Regions from separate parts of the Homo sapiens genome. Here region 1 is linked to region 2. Evidence: fine-mapped expression QTL. Tissue or cell type: neutrophils. Region 2 holds a variant in brackets; the other region holds the start of a gene. All regions are shown on one strand. Distances are from middle to middle.

Region 1 (8,107 bases), 340 kb after region 2:
CGTTCAGGCCACCCCTCACTGCAGTGAGAAGTGGGCCTCTGCCTGCCTCTAGACAAGGACGGCAAGATGGGGAGAAGTGGCCCCGTGTGAGAGTTCATTTTCATCTGCCTCCTCTTTTTCCAGGCTGAGATTGTGGTTGGAGAAGAATTACATCTGTGGGCTCCTTTTGTAGTCAGAAGGGTAAGTGCAACATCTGTTTACTCTGTGCTCCATGGTAAATGTTTGGTTTCAGGCACCGCCATCCACTTCCTCTCCTCTCGTCCTCTATCTTTGCTGCACGGATAATAAATTACACTGAATTCTTCTCTGCATTTATTTAGCTTTCTTGTGGGTGTCACCTCCTCATGGAGGGGGAAAAATTGTCAGTAGTTTATAAAAGACAGAGTTTCTTTTTCTGCGTGATGTTCTGACATTATAGGGAAGATCTTGGAACACAGACCCCCCAATTCTGATTCTGGCTTAATTATGAACAATTGAGGCCCCATTCCAGGCCTGAAGCAAAGTCCAAATGGTGAGCACATTATCCCCACTCAGGTTTTCCTTAATGTCATAACACAAGGTTTCAGAAGTCAAAAACATCCAGAGAAGCAATATACACAGACACACACACACACAAATCCCTTCATCAAAGCCTTTTTGGGAGGCAGAGTACCAAGAATGGAGAACGGAGAAAATGCAGTTTCTTTGTTTTAAAACACAATTTAAACCTTTGAGATCAGAAAACTGGATTTTAGGAAGGTCCTGAGCATCTGATGACAGTGCTGACAAAACGTGCCCCATGGCAACATGAACCCTGGGAAGTTCAAAAGGCTCACCAAAGCAAGTTTCCTTCTATCTTTTGCTTACATTCTTTACATTGAAGTGCTGGTTTTCTTCTGTATTTGCAATGGTTCTATATACAGTTTCTGGAATGCAGTAGAGGTTCAAGTCATGTTTGTTCTCAAACTCCTAGGCTCAAGCGATCCTCTCACCTCAGCCTCCCAAAGTGCTGGGATAACAGGCATGAGCCACTGCGCCCGGCTTCAAGTAATGTTTGTTGAATGAATGAAGGCAGGAATAAATGAGTGATTCCTCTGAAGAAATCCTTGGCAGAGAGTAAAAATGCCAAATATCCCCCAAGAGTTTTCAGAATTGAAATGTTACATTTGAGTTGGCTGAGAGAGAGTGTGGTGCAGGACTTTGGTGGTGAAGGACTGTTGGTGGGTTGCCCTGAAACCCTGCAGTGAACCTGACCCAGCTTGCTCCTACAGACTGTCCCCCATTCCCAGGGAGGAAGGAGACTAGAATGAGATACCATCGCGGCACCCCCATGCACCCTGGCCAAAGTGGCACCAGTGACCACAACTGAGGCAGAAGAGACCAGAGACATCAAAGAAGCTCCTGCTCTGCCACTGCCTATTAACGACTGCAGCAGGGGGCCTCTGGGAATGACCAGGACTCCAGTCTCTGTCCTGTTTCTCCAGTTCTAGAGCTGATGGGTTGCCCTGAGCTGCACAGATCCCCTAAGGAAGATGACTCGGTGGCATGCTGGCATGGGTGCGGTTCCTGCAGCTCTGGAAAACTTCCTACACACCAGGAGGAGAGGGACTTACTCTTCTTGGTTTCCCAAACATGGAGCACGATTTTGAAGATGCGGAAGATGTAGTTGCGAGACCCCAAGCAGCAGACCTAACATCAAAGTGAGCTGAACATTTGCAGGGTATACCAGAAGCAGAAGCAACAGCAGCCTATTCTAAGATCCAAGCCCAGCCAGAACCCTCCCAAGACTGTCTGTTTATAGATCGTGGCCCAAACTGACCCTTGTTCCAAGGATGACCAGGAGAGTGATAACGGTTGTGGGCTTAGGAACCAGTCAGGCTTGGATCCAAACACTTCACTAGCTGCACGACCTTGAGTAAATGACAAGATGGCTTAACTGTGAAAGGGAGTAATAAGCATTGCCTATGTAACTAACAGGACTGTTGGAGTGATTCAATGAGATAATACATATACACAAATCAAGGCATGAAAAGCATTTATCAAACATTAGCTATAATTATTATTTCACTAACTCATGTGGCTAGCACTGGTGTGACGAGGAGGGGAACTTAGTTTACAAGTTATAGGTATCTAAAAATACCACTAAAACAAGTTTTTCACTCCTATGGACTAACTTAATGTCTGAATTAAGGTGTGAAAACCTGGATTCTAGCCCCTTTATTGCCGTCAACTTGCTGTGTTTTCTTGGGCAAGTCATTTTACACTTCCAAGCCTGGTTTTCGACATGTGTTAATAAAGATTCGGCTCTCACCCTTTAGGATTCTGTGGTTCAACCCAACAAAACAATCACTGCACTTGTGGAAAAACAAAAAAGTACTGAGCCAAAGGAAAAAGAGAGCACCAGGAATAAGGAAGACAGTTCTGCTGAGTCTCCACCCAGAGATGCACAAAGAAGTGGAAGAGAAGAGGAGGTGGGGTGATAGGAGGTGACTAGCAGGAATAACACACTCTAGGACAATGCTTGTCATCACTACTCTCTTCCAGCCTGAAGTCAAGAAAGCAGAGTGGAAGATCCAGGCGCCTACCCCTAAGGCACATGAGGAAGGGGAGAAGAGGGAGAGCAAGACACGGAGGGAATCTACCACACTAGAGCAAACCCTCACCCACTTCTCGGCTGGGTTCCCAGTAAGGCTTCCCACCCACTCCAGCGTTTCTCCCCCACTCCCTTACCCCACCCCAACTGCGGACTAAGAGGAGCCCACCCCGGAGTCCAAGTTTTGAATCTGGTCCGAGGATCAAAATGATAAATGTTTCCAAAACGTTGACATATGAAAAGTAAATATTTGGTTGCACAATTGGGGCTAAAACTAGGGTCAATCCACCCCATTCTCCAAGCGCCTCTCCATTCGCTGCCAAGCCCAGGATCTGAGGCTGAGTGCGGTTTGTAAGATTATAACGCTCGGTCTCATTTGAAGGGCTGTCAGCATTTCCATTCTCCGGCCCCTTCGTTCGGGGAGGCATTTATAACCGAGCCATAAAAAATTCACCCGGGGCTGCAACTTGGCATCTCCCAGACTGCGCTCCAGGCAGAGCGGGTTTTGCGAGCACCCACTCTGAATCTGTCCAGTTCCTCAGAAGTTAAACCTTCACCCACACTCTCAACTTTCCTTGCAAGGGCAGCCAGAGAGCGGCTGGCCCATTCTGATCTCCAAGCAGGTCAACAGTCTCGGGCCCTCTCTCCCGCCTCCGCGCCTTGACGGCCCATCATCCTATAGCTTTCTCCTTCGCCCGCCCCCCTTTTTAACGAGCGCAGACCCCTGACCCTCACCCTAAGACCTTGAGGCTGCAGTGCTCTTGCCTCCCCTCGCCTCTCCTCAGCTACTCCTTGGAAGCTGTCAGCGGGCCCTGCGTCTGGAACCCTCACCCCTGGAGAGGCACTGCTCTTTGCCCATCGCTGGGGGTTTCGAGACCTCTCTTTCCAGATCTGACCAAGCCTACAGACCCCCAGCTCGGAGAGTGAGGGATCGTATCCAGGAAGGGATGAGAATAGAGACTGCATCCAGGGAGGCCGAGGGGAAAGGACGGATCTGGCGCCTGGGGCCCCCTCGGTGGGACCCAGGTGGGTGGCCCGCGTGGGGTGGGGCAGGGGTACTCACAGGCGCTCAGCGTTGCGGGGGATGCCCCGAGGAACCGCGCGGAGGCCCAGCCCGTGGCAGTCCACGCTGGCAGCGGAGCAGGTACACTTGGTGGGGCAGGCGACGGCTGGAGGCCCACTCAGGACGCTCGCCAGCGCCAAGGCCAGCGCCAGGCGGGCGCGCACGGCGGCGCCGACCCCTGCCCACCCGGGGGCCATGGTGTGCAGGGCCCCGCTCCTGGAGGAGGCTGCCTCTGCGGGGCAAGACGCGTGGAGCCCGAGGAGGCGCGCGGGGAGCGCGGGCGGCCTGGGGAGCGGGCGGCGGAGTTAGCGCGGAGGAGGGGCGAGCTCGGTGCTCAGGCGCACGGGGCGCGGGCGGAGCGGGGCGCTCCGGGCGGCGGCGGCGGCAGCAACAGCAGCTCCATCGGCGGGGCCGGCGCTGCCCCGCTGCGCATCGCTGGGAGTGCCCAGGTGCGGAGCGCCCCCTGGCCCCGCTGGCCCGCGGGCCGGGTTGGGGACCTGGGGCGAGCGCAATGGGGCGTGGCGCCCGGGGAGGTCCGGCTTGGGGCTGGGCTGGGGAGCGCGGCGGCTGCGGCTGGGGCACGGGGCGGCCGGGTGAGCTGGCCGGCGCTCGCTCTCTCCATTCAGTGAGCACGGCAGACACCGGAGACGCGGGGCCCACCCCTCCGGCCCCCCCCCGACCAAGAAACGCCAACTCCGCCTCCCATTGGCTGCGCCGCGCGTCATGTCGACTAAGTTGGGAACTTTGCTGGAGCGACCGAGAGCCTGGAGGGAGGAGGCAGTAGAGGAGGGAGAGAGAAGGAACCAGGGAAGGAAAGGGGCTCGGCCAGCAGGGCCCCTGGAAAGAAACACTGAAACTCATTCACTGTTAAGATCCAAGGACGGATAAGGCTCCTGACACTTTTTTTTTTTTAATTTTTGCACTGAGCTGAGCACTCTACTCATATTCTTTACTTAAGTCCACGATCTTCCAAGGGGTCGTCTGAAAACAGCTCAGAGAAGTGAAGCGACTTGCTGGAGGTCGCACAGCTGCTAGGGACGCCAAACCATGGCAGTGTCGCCCACGAAGCCGCTTCCCTACCGCACCTAGTACTCATGGCAGAGATCCACAATTTTGCCTGAAGAGCCTTGGTTGACACCAATGTACTCCACAGCTACACACACACACACACCGTGGTCCATGTTGTTGAGGTCACTGCTGGCAAACCTTACCCGGAAACTTGCCCTGCTTTGCCCAGACCCAGCGCTTGGTGGACTGGTAAAAGTAGTGATGGCAGCGACTTGGACCCCTGGATTGACAATGCCTTGTTCCATCCTCGGGTTTCTGCTTCCTGACTGGGTGACTCTGGGCCAATCGTGTCATCTCTGAGCCTTCGTTTTCTCAAATCCGGGGCCACAGTCCTACCTGGCCTCACCTCCCTGGGTTGTTTGGAGCATCACAGAAGAGAACGTGTTTTTGCAAAAGTCATTCGCAGACGAGGCATCCCTTCTGTCCCCAGCGCCTTCTTTCTTCCAGCGCCCGCTTTAAATTGGCTAGGTCTGAGCTTTTCCAGATGCCAGTGGGGAGGGGCGTGTGCGTTAGAGGCTCCATAAATACTTGTAGGAATGATTTTGTTTGTTTGTTTGAAAGGAAAGGGCAGGAACTGGAGGAAGTATTGCCCAGATTTCCTTGAGGTCCCCTCACACTGAGAAGGCCTGAATGAGCCCTGCATATATATACACACACACTGGTGCCTACGTATTCACAGCCACGCACACACTCTCACATACTCAGGCTCACACACACCCATTTATACACCGGCAATCACACACACGTGTACATGCATGCTCGCACACACACTCACATAGTGACAACTATACTCCTGAGAGCGCTTCTCTTTTCTTTCATAAGAATACTATTCTGATTTCTTCTACCTCATTTTCCTTCAAGGAAACTTTCAACTACTTGACCACATCCTGTGAATATATAGTAGAGTTGTAGATTTTATTGTATTATACTTAGCAGATTTTCAAAGTCTTAGCTTTGGGCACCCACTTGCGCGCGCGTACACACAAACACACACATACGCACACTCACTCAAACACACACACTCGAGTCCCTTCATCATTCATAAACACATTAGGTGCAATTTACTGCTGTTATTCTTGGGAACGGCTTTCTGTACAGATGCTGTTGTTATCGCCCCCTGGTGGCTGGCGAGGGTCTATGCTCCGGTCTTCAGGGTGACTTCGGTATTTAAGAACTCTAAACATCCTTTTATCCCTTTGCTCTGAAGCTTTCCTCCAAACCTTGAACCAATTTAGTACCAGGACTGAGGCAGATGAGAGAACCGGGCAAGGGCCCAAGGGCACAAAGCGTCTCAGACTGTCTGGAGCAGAAAACAGTACGGTTTTCTTTGTTTTCCCAAATGCATGCTAGAGCATGTTTTGCAATCCCTTCGGGCTGGTCCTGGATCTGTGCTCTGAGCGCAGTGGGGGACTGCGTTTTCCATTTAAGCTGCTCAGGGGGGTTTCATGAGCCAGACTGTATCTTTAAGGGACTTTATAGGCATTCAAGTGTGACTTTTCCTGGGAGAAGCCCCTTAGAACAGATGGTGAGGATTTCCTTCAGAGTCAATCATCCCCAAGGAGGAGGCAAGTGGGAAATACAGGAGGGGCCCAGAACACCAGGATACACAGAATCATGGAGTGTTTGGGCTGGTACAGCCTTAGAAATCACCTAATCCAACATTTCTACAAGTGCCTTCTGATGACTACTGATTCCACATGTTTCATCATGGAGGAGAAAAAAGTCTCCTTGGGCAAAGACAGATTGAGAAATGCTACTCACCTTCACCCCTCTTGGAGAATTGCATCACAGATGAGTGTTTTTAAGTTCCTGAGAAGTCCTGCAGTAAGGAAACCTGTTTAAGGCTTATTTAACCCAGTTTCTCAGTATAGAGGACCACTTTTCATGTAAACTGCAAATTCTCTTGGAACATACTTTGAGAACCCAAATATAGTTCAACTCTTGTATTTTACGAACAAGGAAGCTGAGTTTCAGAGAAAGGCGGGCATTTATGTAGGGTCACCTAGCTAATTAGTGAAATAACCAGAGCCAGGACTCCGGGCTTCCAATGCTGAACATGTGGCTCTGTCCACTTCCTCAGCTGATTCTGGGGCATCTGCAGAAGGCGGTAGCCACCCCATGGAGCAATTACCCTCCTTGGAGAAGACTGGGTAAATCACTAGGAGGTCAGGCTATTGTTTAGAACTTTCTATGTCCAAGGGCCAGAGGTGGCTTTACACTCTGTGGTGTCATTTTTAGAGTTGCGTAAAAGTCCCTGGACACTTTTGAATTTTCCCCTTTACTTTTCCATAGGCTTTTCAAAAGCAAACTACTCGCCCATTCCTGCAGGAAACCCCATCTCAAACTTTCTCCTCAACCTGTGTTTCTCAAAAGCAAACTACTCACCCATTCCTGCAAGAAACCCCATCTCAAACTTTCTCGTCAACCTGTGTATATTTCCCTGTGTGAGATACTACCCTTCATGTGGCCACCACAGTCAGCGGAGGTTTTCTGTTTCCAACCAGCCAGACTAACCATTTGTGCTCATCGTTCTCCAATGAATTCTCCAGATCTACTCTCTGCCCACTGTCGGAGGCAGTTCTGTTCCTCAGAACAAACAAAAAACTTTACCTTATTGAATTTCCCCAAAAAATGACTTTTAAAGAAAGCCATGGATAGCACACAGAATCTACAGAAAAAAATGAAGATGGAGGCTTCAACAAAGACAAGACCCAAGGCAGGATCTAGGTGCCAAGCTCAAGATTTCCAAATTCCCAGGAGGGAGCAATTGATGGTCCTGACTTGAGTCACGTGATCACCCTTTTGGCCAGAGAAGACAAGAACTATGGGTGACAGTTTTATGGAGACTGCACTCAGTTGGGCAGGTAGGAGTCCTTCTCTCAAAGGAAAACCCAGAAGCTATTAGCTGAAAAGTGGGTGGGAGTATTGAGAAGTCAAAACAGCTCAAAGAATTTTCCCTCTCTCACACACCACAGCCATTTAATTCTTCAGTTCTGTTCATTCTTCCCCATGACCATCTCTTCAATGTATCCCCTCTTCATCTCTGGTTCTCCTGCTATTGTTCAGATCCTAGTTTCATGCATAGGTATTGCTCATTGGCCCCCACATAATTTCTCTAACTTTATTTCTTAGTTTTTTGCTTCACCAATCCGTCCTTTGCCCTGATGATCCAAGGATCTTAAATACAGACCTGACAATGCAATTTTGAACTCTGGAGTTGTTTTCTGCTTCTTCCACCTCATCTGCCACCACTCCTCCACATCCACTCAATACCCGTCCCAGAACATCCTTTCCTGCTCTCCTGTCTGTCTACCCCAGAGTCCATGTAGCAGCCGAATCCTCCAGTTTAGAAGCGGAATCCTCTGGACTTGTTGGTCCAGACTATTAGGTTCTTGAAGATAGTG
Region 2 (8,107 bases):
GGCATTTTGTATTTTAAAGATATATTCATGTCCAGCTGCCAGTTTTTTGAGAATTTATTATATGTCAGCCACTGTCCTCCAGGTTTTATATGCATTCTCTCTTAATCCTCACAGAAACCTGTGAAAGATGTATTGTCATCCCCACTTTACAGATAGAAAGCTGAGCCCCAAAGAGATTAAATGATAATGTAAGCCAACTATCAAGTGAAAACCTGGTGTTCAAACCCAGAACTCTCTGCCTGCACAGACTATGCCCTTAATCACCATATGACACTTCCACCTTTCACATCTACCACAATCTTTGACACAATCCATGACAGTTCTTTGATATAGATTGGGAAGACTTTTCCCCCTAGAGAGAGAAGAGGGTTTCGGGAAGAGATCAGAAGGTCACCTGCAAGGGGCAATTCAATGGTTTGTGTGTGCTGTGGTGGAAGAAGGTGTCATGTGTACCGACATTCTTTTCTCCAAACTCCATCCTTCTCCCTCCCAATACATAATCTAACCTAACCCCTTGGATCTCCTTCCTATCCATGGCTTATGAATGAACCTCCACCATGAGTGGTATGGTACCCCTTTTACTTCCACCTGGCCAAGGGTAATGAATGTGTGCTACAGGGGGCTCCCCCATCTCCTATGCATGGCAGGCATTGCTAATCGATGACAGCTCTTTCCTTCAGGAGCTGAATGTGGCCATGCCACCCTTCCTGGCAGACGACTCCAGTCAGTCAATCTGGGCTGAGATTTGAAAAGAATGTGGTTGCTTTTCAGCCTTAAGCCTTATACACAGTAATGGAAATAGCATGTAGAAATGGCGAATTAGAAATACCACATATCTGAGAACTTCAAAGCCTGGGTTTTAATCCTGGCTCTGATGCCAACTTGTGACTTTGTGCAAGTTATGTCTCACTCTGGGCCTCAGTTTATCCATCTGTAAGTGAGGGGGTATGCCTGTGCTATAGAGAACTTAAAGTCTCTTCCAAGAATAACATCCTAGGTTCTGACAGGTGTTCAAAGCCAGATGGAGCTCATCAGGGGAAAGAAAGGCCCTGTCTGTGTTGACAGGACTGTGTGATCAAACCTGTATAAGAAAATATCCCACACGTGAAAACCACCCTGGAGAGCCCATTGTGCCTCATTGTCTGCGTCTGTGCAGGATAAAGCATCTATAAGTGGAAGAAAAAGCAAACACAGTGTCAGTTGTTCACATTATGAGAAACCACCTGTCACAGGCCCCGCCTCCAGGCTGCCTGGAGTAGGTGGTCTCTCCAGAACAGAACTTCAGGTGTGGGGGCCAGGAATCCATCCTAAGTGACGTGGGAAGAGGGCGTCTGGAGCTTGAGGACACAGCTGCTCAGTTCTTCTGTAGCTCCCAGGCCCCAACTCTTTGTCTTCCCTCCCAAGCTGGGAGTCAGCTTGGAGTTGCTTCTCCTTTGCTGAATTGAGACATTCAGGACCCTGGCTGTGGCATTTCGTGCCATCCCAGATGATAATGGCCAACATTTACCGAGTTCTCACAGGGTGCCAGGCACTGTGAGGTGCCTGGACACTTCTAACAGTCCTGTGAGGTAGGAACTACTATCATCCTCACTTTAGCGCTAAGGGAACGAAGGCTCAGGGAGGTTAACTTGCCCAAGGAGGCACAGCAGTAAGAGGCAGAGCCAGGAATCAGTCATGGGCAGGCAGGCTCCAGAGTCCTGAATTTTAGCCATATAACATGGCTGGTGGCTCCAGAGAGTCTCAGGTATTCTGTTGTATATTGTCTATGTAGCATGGTCAAATGACTGTCTTGCCTTTTGGATTTAAACTGTAGGAGGGCAGGGGCCATGTCTTACTCATTCTCCTCTGTACCTATGGTACCTGGCGTACTGCATGGCAGGTAATAGTCGGTGCTTGGTGATTCTCTGGTTAATGTATGCACACATAGATGAGTGCATAGAATCCAGAAGGCAGAAGTTAAGGAGCCATGCCTCTTCTCTGAATTACAAAGTTTTTGAAAAGAAAGAATTTAAACTATGTATTAAATGCCTACTATATGCCAGGAATTGTTCTAAGTGTTTGGTGTGATTGGTTTCATTAATCATCATAACAACCAAACGAGGTACAATCCCATATCTCCTTTACATGCAGAGGAAGCTCAGGCTCTAGGATTATAGTAAATTGTTTAAGATCACACAGATTTAAGTGGCAGAGCTGGGATTCAAACTCAGGCCTATTTGACTCCAAAGTGCCATGATCATTCATGTCATTCCATGACAGGAGGCATGTTCTTATTAGTGTGAGTCCAAAATGAAACCACCCTGGCCGAAGTTACCTTCTTGGGTTGGATGACAGCTCAATGACAGGAAGTGGTGGCTGCTTCCTCAGTGTCCCAGATAATGCTAAGATTCTAAGGCAGGGCCAGCAACACAAACCCGAGTTATGATTGGTGAAAGGAAGCTATCTGGGGCTCCAGCAGGGTTTTGCAGTCATAGAACCTAAAGCTGGAGCTTTATTAGTTTGCCAACACTAATCTTACTTAAGGAATAAAAGTGGGGGCATTGTACTCAGGAAAGATCTTGGACTGAGGCTAGGGGCCAGGAAGCAAGGCTTTTGGCAAGAGCCTGTGTCCTAAGAACTGACAATTTGGACTGTAAAGATGGCTAGTAATCTAACCAGCCATTGACCTTTAAAAAGCTCCATCTCCTCACCTGTGTAATGAGGAGTCCATGGATAATCTCTAACATCCCCTCCAGCTCAGAAAATCTTCATTCCCAGAAGGCATGGCCATTCCTTACCTCCCCTTTCCCCCTTCACTGCTAAAATATCCAGTGAGAGACCACTGCGTCTTTGACTGGATCAAAGCCCTGGTAGAGAGGAAACCCCTAGGTAACAGGACATAATTACTAAAGACTACACAGGTGCCCACTGCAGGAAGAAATAGCCAGCACATCCACTCATTCATTCAAAAGACATGTATTTTATTTCAGCCATGTACCAGACATGGTCTGAGTGCACTGATGAACAAACATAACAAAATGAAAATAAAATTAACAAAACTAAAAGCTGTAGACAGACTCTATGCTGTTTCTTGCACCAAGACTGATGAGCAGGGTGAGAGTGGGAGGTGAGAGCCCATATTAATCAAAGATTAACCAACATTAATAATACAAGCAAATAATATAAAACTATAATAGCAATAAGTACGTTGAAGACAAAATGTGAGTGTTATAGGAGTTTAGAGAAAATTGACCTAATGAGGAAGGCAGATGCTTGATCTGAGAACAAGGTGAACCGGTACCAGGGAACAGAACCTTCTGTGCAGAGAGAATAGTATGTGCAAAGGCTCTGTGGTGCAGAAAGCAGGATGGGTTAGTAGAATTGGTAAAAAGCTCTGTGTGGTTGCAGAAAAGGGTAAGAGGAGTCTGGAAAAGAAAGAGCCACGGGGCCTAACTACATATATTTTCTGTACCATGGTAGGAACTTTAATGTTTATCTTAAGAGCAATACTATACTATTTCAGGCATGCATGCACGCATGTGTGTGTGTGTGTGTGTGTGTGTGTATGTGTGAAAGACAGAGAATTGGTCAAAGCTGTGCTTTGAAAAGACCACTCTGGGTATGATATGGAGAATGGACAGGGGCAGGTCAGGGTGTTGTGACTGAGTCACAGAGCCTGGTGATTCTGTTGGCTCCTCCACGGTACAGAATTGCAGCATTCTTGCAGGGCAGAACTATGGATTCCATCTAGATTCCCTGGTGATCTACCTGCTGGAATCCTGCCTCCACCAGCATCTCTGGGCAGCTTCTGTACCCATGGGTGGGGGTGGGAGTGGGCTTCAATGTCCCACAGGCTCAGGGCATCTCCCAAGTGGCTGGTCACACTGGAGATGCAGCTTCCAGATGTGGAGAGCACAAGCATTCTGCCCTCCAGACAGGATCAGACAGTGAAATTCTGCCTTGGAAATCAAACCACACCCCCCACCCCAC[A/AACACACAC]ACACACACACACACACACACACACATACACACACACACAGTGGTACCCCACATATCTGTCAGAGACTTTTTCCCCAGACAAATAATGATTTATGGGAGGCTGTTCTGTTTCCCGCCTTTCTCTTGCTCTATTTTAGGAGAATATAACCAGACCATGTGTTTTTGCTTAGCCTGACACATTCCGAGCAAGCTTTCTATATTCCGTGTGCTGATGAAAGGTCTTTGCTTAAGAAGTAGAAGAAAGAAAAGAAAAGAAAAAAAAAAAGTGAGCCCAACCCCCATCTCCCCTGGTTGGCCAAAGGAAAGGTCATTATCCATACCCTGGAGTCCCACTGAGGCCCCCCAGGGCAGCCTGAGCTGGCGCTCTTATGACCAGACTCTGGGGTAGACCAACACTCCCACACATCCCACTTCATGGATGAAGAAAGCTGGGAGGGATGAAAGGTGGGCGCAGTGGCTGCCTTTTAGCTCTTAGACTCACTAAGCACTTTCCCTCCTTGGGGCCTTTGAACCTGTGGTTCTCATTGCCTAAAATCCTCTCCTTCCCACTCTTCACACTGCTGATTGCTCCCCTCCCTCAGGGCTCAGCTGAAATCACATCTCTTCACAGCAGCCGTTCCTTCCCCATCACTCCATCCAAAGCAAGTCTCCCCGAAACTGTCCATCTCAGCACCCCATTTGTTTCTTTTATGGCAATGATCATACATGGTCATTATTACATTTAGTTTCTTACTTACTTTTGCTTTTTGCTTCTTTATTTCATTTGGCGAGGGGTTGGCGAACTATGGCCTACGGGGCCAATCTGATCCCACTCCCTGTTTTTGTAAATAAAGTTTTACTGGAATGCAGTCACTCATGCTTATTTCTTTTCTTTTCGAAATGGAGTCTCACTCACTGTTTGGCCAGGCTGGAGTGCAATGGTGCAATCCTGGCCTACTGCAACCTCCATCTCCTGGGTTCAAGCAATTCTCCTGCCTCAGCCTCCTGAGTAGCTGGGATTACAGGCATGCACCATCACACCCAGCTGATTTTTGTATTTTTAGTAGAGACAAGGTTTCTCCACGTTGGCCAGGCTGGTCTTGAACTCCTGACTTCAAGCATTCTGCCTGCCTTGGCCTCCCAAAGTGCTGGGATTACAGGCATGAGGCACTGTGCCTAACCTCATGCTCATTTCTTTACAGAGTGTCTATGGCTGCTTTCACCACACAAGGCAAAGGTGAGTGGTTGTGACAGGGACTATTCTAAGCCTAAAATATTTACTATCTGCTGTGTTACAGAAAAAGATCAGTGACCCCTGGATTAGACTGTCAACTCTACGAGGGCAGAGACTAAGCCTTGCTTGTCTAGCAGTGTGTTAGGTACCTGATTCAGAGTCTGGACCATCATAGGCGTCTGATAGGCAGTTGCTGCGAGACAAACCCTTGCAAATGCCAGGTTGGAACTTGTCGAATCAATGACCAAGAGGCTGACCTTCATCTTCAAACCTCAGGCTCTCTTTTGTTGGCTTTATATAAGGCTTGCCTTACATTTAGTTTAAGTAAAAACCAGGAAAATATGTTTCAGTTTCCTACCATAGTGCCTTAAGCAAAATAAAAGGCAGAGTTTTAAGGGAGGAGGGAACCCCTCCAACTGGATTTTAAAAGACCTACTGAGCAATAAATATCAACGATTATGATTTATGAGGCCACGAGGAGTTGTCCCTAGTTATAATAGCAAGCTCAAAGAAGGCAGCCCAAATGGACAGAAATGCAGGGGGCTACATAAAAGCAAATAAAATAAAATAATTTACTAGTTTGATTTTCCTCCAAGCAGGCAAACACTTCCTGCTGATAAATGGTGAGCATTTGTGCAAGTCTTAATAAAGCATTTGGGAAAACACTTCTGTAGCACAATCAAGATTTTTTAAAAAGTCACCCAGTCATGGGAAAATATTAGGAACGATTTAACTGGACATAGTGATGGAATACTTTGAAAATTATAATTTGATCAGAGACATCCAATGTGGATTTATGTGAGGGAGAGTTTAATACCTAACCTGTTGGAAGTAAGTTTCCTGGATGAATTACTACCATGGGAGATAAGAGAGAGGCAGATATTTACATGCACTTCAAGAAAGCCTGGGGCATAGTTTTACGTATTATTGGCCAACAAAACATACAAAGAGAGATTAGGAGCCTATGAAACACATAGTGCCAAAGCCCAAACTCATTTCATTTTTCAAGCTGGACAAAAGGTAAGAAGTCAGGTGGATTGAGTGAAACTTACTGCGTATAAATAAAGCACAAACTGAGAAAATGTAAAATAATCCAGTTAAACACAGTCAACCTTTCAGCCTTCGGGTCACCTAATAGAATTTGTTTTGAATCTTTCGGCCCAAATGTTATAACTGAGGCAAAGATATAACATAAGCCAGGATGAGCATCAAAGAAATTGCAGTCAATCTCAGTTGTTAGTAGGTGAACCCTCTGGAGATAAGCAAAGGGACCCCTTTGCCATAAGGCATGCCTGCTCTGTATCATCTGCACACATTGCAAAATACATTTCCTGATGCCCACTAGGGCCCTTAATACATTTCCAGTGAAGAAGGCTCTAAAAGATAGTAGGTATGGTTGATGTGTCCAAAAGCAGTCTGCAGGTCACAACCAGGACCAGAACCAAGACTAGGGAGACGTGTCTGAGACTCACCCAGGGCACATCTCTAAGGAAGCACTCACATCCCTGAAAGAGAGAGGGCCTCCTTAAATGGTGCACCCTGGGCACCTTGCTTGTCTCAGCACAGTCTATGCTGTATGTGGGACTTTGTTCATCTCAGAACAATTGAGCTCACCTGGGTCACTCTCAAAGGGTAGAAATGATCTCCTTCATTTAGGGTACTGTACTATGAAAGAGAAAACTCCTATGATTATAAATATCTATTGGAAGAAAAAATGGTTAGAACTTAAGATATAAGCCTATTCTCCTAGCATTTGAGAGATAAACATGTTGTTTAGGCGACTTTGCTCACTTCAACAAGGAAAGATACTCACTTTAAGTGGATCTAAAACAGAAAGATGGGTTTTGAAATCATAATAGCTAAGGAGCAAACGTTCAGGCTTTGATGGGACCTTTGCTCTTGTTACTCTCAAATATGAACTTGAGAAAGTTATAAAATACTAAATTACTTTGCCCATATAGCCCCAAAATACATCTTTGTGGTTTTCATTGCATTTTGACCAATATTAAGTTAGTTTAGGAAAATATGAGTTCTGCCTACTCACACATGGGTCTCTTCTGGTGTATCTTTTGCTCATCCAAAATGAACTTCATGCCAACAGCACTTTGACATACCAGTGTAGCAAACTGCTATTATGCACCTACCCTAAGTACAGACAGAATTCTTCTCTATCGCTTATCAGCAATGACACCTAAAAGTTTACTGTCTCTCCGAGGGCAAACTTTCCACTTGATTCTGAGTTGGTGCTTCTGGTTTCTAGGTAAATAGCTCAACAATCCCAGTTAGGATGTACTGTGAGGTGTCAACCTCTCCAATTGTGAACTCATGCCAGCGCACGCTCTCTCTCTCTGTACTTCATCCTACCCTGTTTAGTGGGAGAAACAAGATCTGCTTTCTAAGCCACAAGATGGCAAGACCTCAGAGCTGAGTATCTCAACAAGGAAAAATAAGCAACAGCGTGTGGTTCTCTTACCTAAGCAGGCCAAAGCTTAGGCAGTCATAATGTGCAGAAGTGCCTGAAGAGATGCTATATTGATTATGAGATACGATTGTGAATTTTATTACCTTCCGGGAAAAAATAGGCAACATAAAAGCAAGAGTTTTGTGCCAGATGTAAGAATTAAACTCTACAGTTATCTGATTAGCATTAGAGACATGTGCTTTGAATGTGAAACACTTGTAAGTCTCCCCAGGTGAGCTCTCGATCTTATCTGTGCCATGTATGTAGATTTTTATATGCCTGCTCTTCTCAAATGGGACCCAGATGAAGTTCAATCATTTGCCTAGAAGAGTCTGAGAGGTTCGCTGGATTTTTTTTTTTTTTTAATTTTAGAAGCCAGCATGATTTTTTATAAGAGAAAGGCAAAGCTTTGGGACTTTGCTTGGAATTGAAGGGGCAGCCTGGGTCAGGGCACCAGGAGGTAT

Direction of the effects. Alleles are on the strand shown, and positions count from the first base shown. SD is a standard deviation of normalised expression in the study named.
For the expression in neutrophils of the gene that starts at base 4,262 in region 1, AACACACAC is the high allele of the variant in region 2 and A is the other (moderate effect, 0.60 SD a copy in CEDAR).

Evidence for each region. PIP is the estimated chance that this variant, and not a neighbour inherited with it, causes the effect.
Region 1: SLIT3 starts here. The variant in region 2 is fine-mapped to the expression of SLIT3 in neutrophils (CEDAR, PIP 0.95).

What each region holds. Positions count from the first base shown.
Region 1 is chr5:169,296,878-169,304,984 of GRCh38, forward strand. SLIT3 (slit guidance ligand 3) reads right to left here and starts at 4,262. Exons shown (of 36, transcript NM_003062.4): 1 at 3,636-4,262. The coding sequence starts at 3,832.
Region 2 is chr5:168,958,342-168,966,448 of GRCh38, forward strand. The region is part of intron 4 of SLIT3 (slit guidance ligand 3); the gene reads right to left. Among named protein-coding and RNA genes, the nearest start is that of SLIT3-AS1, 51 kb to the right of the region's middle. The variant A/AACACACAC (reference allele first, on the strand shown) is at 3,970.